Linked DNA regions of Homo sapiens: region 2 is linked to region 1. Evidence: fine-mapped expression QTL. A gene starts in region 1. The other region holds a variant in brackets. All regions are shown on one strand. Distances are between the middles of the regions.

The links. PIP is the estimated chance that this variant, and not a neighbour inherited with it, causes the effect. A credible set is the group of variants that fine-mapping cannot tell apart.
Region 2: its variant is the best candidate, but not a certain one, in a credible set for the expression of CLEC6A in whole blood (TOPMed, PIP 0.83).

Annotation. Positions count from the first base shown.
Region 1 is chr12:8,454,215-8,457,139 of GRCh38, forward strand. CLEC6A (C-type lectin domain containing 6A) reads left to right here and starts at 1,748. Exons shown (of 6, transcript NM_001007033.2): 1 at 1,748-1,928. The coding sequence starts at 1,898.
Region 2 is chr12:8,479,056-8,481,980 of GRCh38, forward strand. No RefSeq gene overlaps it. Among named protein-coding and RNA genes, the nearest start is that of CLEC6A, 25 kb to the left of the region's middle. The variant A/G (reference allele first, on the strand shown) is at 1,182.

The sequences.
Region 1 (2,925 bases):
TTTCCTTTTGGAATCGTGAAGATACTCTCTTCTTTGTCTTTTCACTATCATCCTAAAGGAAGTAGCTGAAGCCACATTAATATAGAGAGTTTATTTGGGCAAAGGATGAGGACAGCTACCCAGGAAAACACTTGTAGGTTGCCTTGGGAAGTGGTCTAGAGAGCAAAGGAAAGACTGAAGATTTTAAAGAAAAAAGAATGAATCTGAAAAATCATGGAACCATCCCAAATGCTCATCAATCAATGAGTGGATAAAGAAACTGTGGTATAGATATACAATGGACCACTACTCAGTCATAAGAAGCAATGTATTAATAGCACTTGCACTGACCTGGATGAGATTGGAGACTATTATCCTAAGTGAAGTAACTCAGGAATGGAAAACCAAACATCATATGTTCTCAATGATATGGGGAGCTAAGCTACGATGACACAAAATGTATAAGAATGGTACAATGGACTTTGGGGACTTGGGGGGAAGAGTGGGAGGGGGATGAGGGATAAAATATTACAAATATGGTGCAGGGTATGCTGCTTGGGTGATGGGTGCACAAAAATCTCACAAATCACCACTAAAAACCTTACTCATGTAACCAAATACCACCTGTACCTCAATAACTTATGGAAAAATAAAAATTAAAAAAAGAATGAATCAGGAGAGGGAGTGAATTAAAAAGTTACTCATCAGTAAATTATCATTGGTTTACAGAAACCACATTGATTAGTAATTAGCTGTATACTGTTAAATTTTAGGGTTCAGTTAGTCTAGAACCTACATAGCAAATGGCTTCAAGAGGTAAATTTCGTGCAAGGTGGCAGTGAGGCATGACTCCTGTCATATCTCTCTCATGAGTCCACTCTGGACTTGATAGTTTCAAGGCACTCACATTCCTCAAATAACAGTTTTTTTTTTTTTTCGTTCTCAGCACTCCATAGATTTATGGCTGTTTGTTAACATACTATTTAAGCAAGGCCTGTAAGCCACTGCCATGAAAGAGATAAATACATTTGAACTGAGTTCTCTCCTGAGTGATGGGTATAACACACATTGATAAACTGCTGCTTTTTCTCTTGTTTCTCTGCCTTTTGTTTTCAGGACAGTGTCTCTACTAAGAATCTATGAGGACAAGAAAACATCATATATTTTCTGTGCTACAATATAAAATTCATGAAGCCTGTTTCTGATTTTATATCACTTCAGGCTCCCTTTTGCCTAATCAGGGAGATTACAAAATATCACTGACATCTGCCCAATATTAGTCTGGATGCAGTAAGAATGTTTCATCACCTTTGCAGACTGATTTCAGAATGTTTCATTTTGCAGTCACATTCCTTAACAATGTTCATGGGTTTTGTTATTTACTATGTTACCCTTCATATCTAAACCATATCCATCCAATCAAACTTTTGCTTACTACCTAGGACACTGTTCAACACATGGATTAAGGCTTGCATAAAATAAGCAGCCAATGTAAAGGTTAGTTAGGGAGCACTTAATTTAACCAAGTTCTCTAAATAGATGTCTTTTAGGAGATAAAAAATTTTCTATTTTGCATGCCAGAATGAATAGGAATCAGACAGAGAAATTTTATGTTAGAAACTGAAGAAATGATCTAAGTATTCTTGTCAAAGTTCTCATGAATGGTTTTCAATGTTTCTCAATTCCTCTTTTGTTTTTTTTAACCCCACGTATCGAAATCACTGGAAACTTTAGTTGTAATTGTGACTTCTTCTTTTGAGGTACACTTAATGTTGGAAGTCTCTTAGTCCTATAAGAGTGTGTAGCAGTTTGTCCCTGAGCTCTAGCTTCTTTAAATGAAGCTGAGTCTCTGGGCAACATCTTTAGGGAGAGAGGTACAAAAGGTTCCTGGACCTTCTCAACACAGGGAGCCTGCATAATGATGCAAGAGCAGCAACCTCAAAGTACAGGTGAGTATTTCCTCAGTTTCAGAGGAAAGTGGAAGTGTATGGTGAAATGAGATCACCTGGAGAGAAGAAGTAGCCAAAGAACAGATTGAAGAGCTAGTGATTGGACCAATATAGTAGACTCAAAGGAATTTGAAAGAAAGAGTAATTCTTCAGAGCCAGAGCCATAAGCACTTGAAAGAATAAGAAAGCAAATATTTTTTGGGAGGTTTGTACCAGATTTTATTGATAGTTTAGGGAGACAGAAAAGATTTACATGATAGAAGGTAAACAGGGAAATAACTGATTATTGGATGTCTGCTCTTCAAAGTCTTTTGACTAATTTTGAAATCCAGGAAGCAGTACTCTTTCCAATTACCCTAAGTTTTTTTGTACTTGCTTTTCTAATTTTTTTGTAAGAGAAAAGCTTCCCATTTTTAATGCATGAAAATTTGACTTTAGCTTCAACCCTTTGCATGTCCATCAATAATGTTTTAAAAAAATTTTTATTAAAATTTTTTATGGATACAAAATAGTTGTGCATGTTTATGGGCTCCATGTCATATTTTGACACAAGAATATGATGCGTAATGGTAAAGTCTGGAAAATTACATTATCCATCACCTCAAATATTTATCATGTCTTTGTGTTTGGAACATTCCAAATCTACTCTTCTAGCTATTTTGACATATGCAATAAATTATTGTTGGGTTAGGCTCAGTGGCTCACACCTGTAATCTCAGCACTTTGGGAGGCTGAGGTGGGTGGATCACTTGAGGTCAGGAGTTAGAGACCAGCCTGGCCAACATGGTGAAATCCCGTCTCTAATAAAAAGACAAAACTTAGCTGGGCATGGTGGCATGCACCTGTAATCCTAGCCACTCAGGAGGCTGAGGCAGGAGAATCACTTGAACCCAGGAGGTGGAGGTTGCAGGGTGCCAAGATTGCCTCATTGTGCTTCAGCCTGGGTGACAGAGTGAGACTCCATGTCAAAAAAAAAAAAAAGTTAACTACAGTTATC
Region 2 (2,925 bases), 25 kb after region 1:
AATCCAATATGGCAATCACCTTTTAGGTTAAAAATTTAATCCATTTACATTTGTGACAATTCGACATATATATGGTTCTAAATCTATCATCTTACTAGGTGGTTTCCATTTCCTCTGCTCCAAAATATTTTTTTTACAGCTTATAACACAACTTTTATTAGAAAAGTTATACATAACACAGCATCAACTATTTTCAAGAACCCAATAAGCAACAAAAACCAGACTAACAAAATGTGTAACAAGAAACTAATGACCTTTCTAAAATCAAACATTCAATTATCTACAATGTCTATTTACAAACAGGGAAAACTCCATGGTTTACAGGCATGTCATATTGAAAATAAAGCTGCAATAGCTTTTTATACAATTATCGCTCTCAAGAAAATGAATCATTAAGACAGTAATTAGGAGTTCACAAATTTAAAACATTTCACGTAATTTTAAATTATTGTCTTCAATAATTTTAAATTATTGAAGTCTGAGTTTCAAAAGTGATTTTTTTCCCACAAAGGTGCCAACACTTAAGCTAGAGCTTTCAGTGTTAACTTTGCCCTAAAAGTTAAGACATATTCTGAGAATCATAATAGTCACATGATTTCTGATGCTATCTGCTCTGTTAATAACAAAGATTTCACACATGAATACCTATGTAACAAATCTCCATGTTCTACACATATACCCCAGAACTTAAAGTATAATAATAATAAAACATAGCAAAGCCTTTATCTGGATGTGTTTTTCTTTAATTAAATTATAGGAAGCTGGATATAGGATTTTGTTGCAAATCTGTTAAAGTTCCAAACACAGGAGTGTGCAGCACTGGAAAAGGAGATCAGTACTAAAACTTAAAATAAATATCAGAGAAACCATTAGCTTTTACAGCATTGTCTGTTTAAAGGTTAAGTTGACCAGGTGTATAATTTCCCATCAGTCTCTTCTTACAGTAGGCAGGGCAATTTCTATTTTCATGATCTGAATACTCAAATATATCCAAACATCTTTTTAAAGCTTTGATTTATAGCTCCTAGAAAGTTATAATTTTTAATAGTCACTCTACTCTAATGAAGCCTATTTCTGCTCATCACACTTATCACTGCTTTGAATGTGTCCCAGAGATTCCGGTATGTTGTGTCTTTGTTCTCATTGGTTTCAAAGAACATCTTTATTTCTGCCTTCATTTC[A/G]TTTTGTACCCAGTATTCATTCAGGAGCAGGTTGTTCAGTTTCCATGTAGTTGAGCGGTTTTGAGTGAGTTTCTTAACCCTGAGTTCTAGTTTGATTGCACTGTGGTCTGAGAGACAGTTTGTTATAATTTCTGTTATTTTACATTTGCTGAGGAGAGCTTTACTTCCAACTATGTGGTCAATTTTGGAATAGGTGTGGTGTGGTGCTGAAAAAAATGTATATTCTGTTGATTTGGGGTGGAGAGTTCTGTAGATGTCTATTAGGTCTGCTTGGCGCAGAGCTGAGTTCAATTCCTGGATATCCTTGTTAACTTTCTGTCTCGTTGATCTGTCTAATGTTGACAGTTGGGTGTTAAAGTCTCCCATTATTATTATGTGGGAGTCTAAGTCTCTTTGTAGGTCTCTAAGGACTTGCTTTATGAATCTGGGTGCTCCTGTATTGGGTGCATATATATTTAGGATACTTAGCTCTTCTTGTTGAACTGATCCCTTTGCCACTATGCGATGGCCTTCTTTGTCTCTTTTAATCTTTGTTGGTTTTAAGTCTGTTTCATCAGAGACTAGGATTGCAACCCCTGCTTTTTTTTTTTTTTTTTGCTTTCCTTTTGTCTGGTAGATCTTCCTCCATCCCCTTATTTTGAGCCAATATGTGTCTCTGCACATGAGATGGGTCTCCTGAATAGAGCACACTGATGGGTCTTGACTCTATATACAATTTGCCAGTCTGTGTGTTTTAACAGGGGAATTTAGCCCATTTACATTTAAGGTTAATATTGTTAATGTGTGAATTTGATCCTGTCATTATGATGTTAGATGGTTATTTTGCCCGTTAGTTGATGAAGTTTCTTCCTAGCCTTGATGGTCTTTACAATTTGTCATGTTTTTGCGGTGCCTGGTACTGGTTGTTCCTTTCCATGTTTAGTGCTTCCTTCAGGTGCTCTAATAAGGCAGGCCTGGTGGTGACAAAATCTCTCAGCATTTGTTTGTCTGTAAAGGATTTTATTTCTCCTTCACTTATGAAGTTTAGTTTGGCTGGATTTGAAATTCTGGGTTGAAAATTGTTTTCTGTAAGAATTTTGAATATGGGCCCCCACTCTCTTCTAGCTTATTGGGTTTCTGCTGAGATCCACTGTTAGTCTGATGGGCTTCCCTTTATGGGTAACCCAACCTTTCTCTCTGGCTGCCCTTAACATTTTTTCCTTCGTTTCAACCTTGGTGAATCTGACAATTATGTGTCTTGGGATTGCTCTTCTCAAGGAGTATCTTTGTGGTGTTCTCTGTATTTCCTGAATTTGAATGTTGGCCTGGCTTGCTAGGTTGGGGAAGTTCTCCTGGATAATATCCTGAAGAGTGTTTTCCAACTTGGTTCCATTCTCCCCGTCACTTTTGGGTACACCAATTAAATGTAGATTTGGTCTTTTCACATAGTCTCATATTTCTTGGAGGCTTTGTTCCTTTCTTTTTACTCTTTTTTCTCTAAACTTCTCCTCTTACTTTATTTCATTAATTTGATCTTCAATCACTGATACCCTTTCTTCCACTTGATCAAATCGGCTATTGAAGCTTGTGCATGCTTACGTAGTTTTTGTGTCATGGTTTTCAGCTCCACCAGGTCATATAAGGTCTTCTTTACACTGTTCTAGTTAACCATTTTTCTTATCTTTTTTCAAAGTTTTTAGCTTCTTTGCAATGGGTTTGAACATCCTCTTTAGCTCAGAGAAGTTTGTTATTACTGACCTTCTGA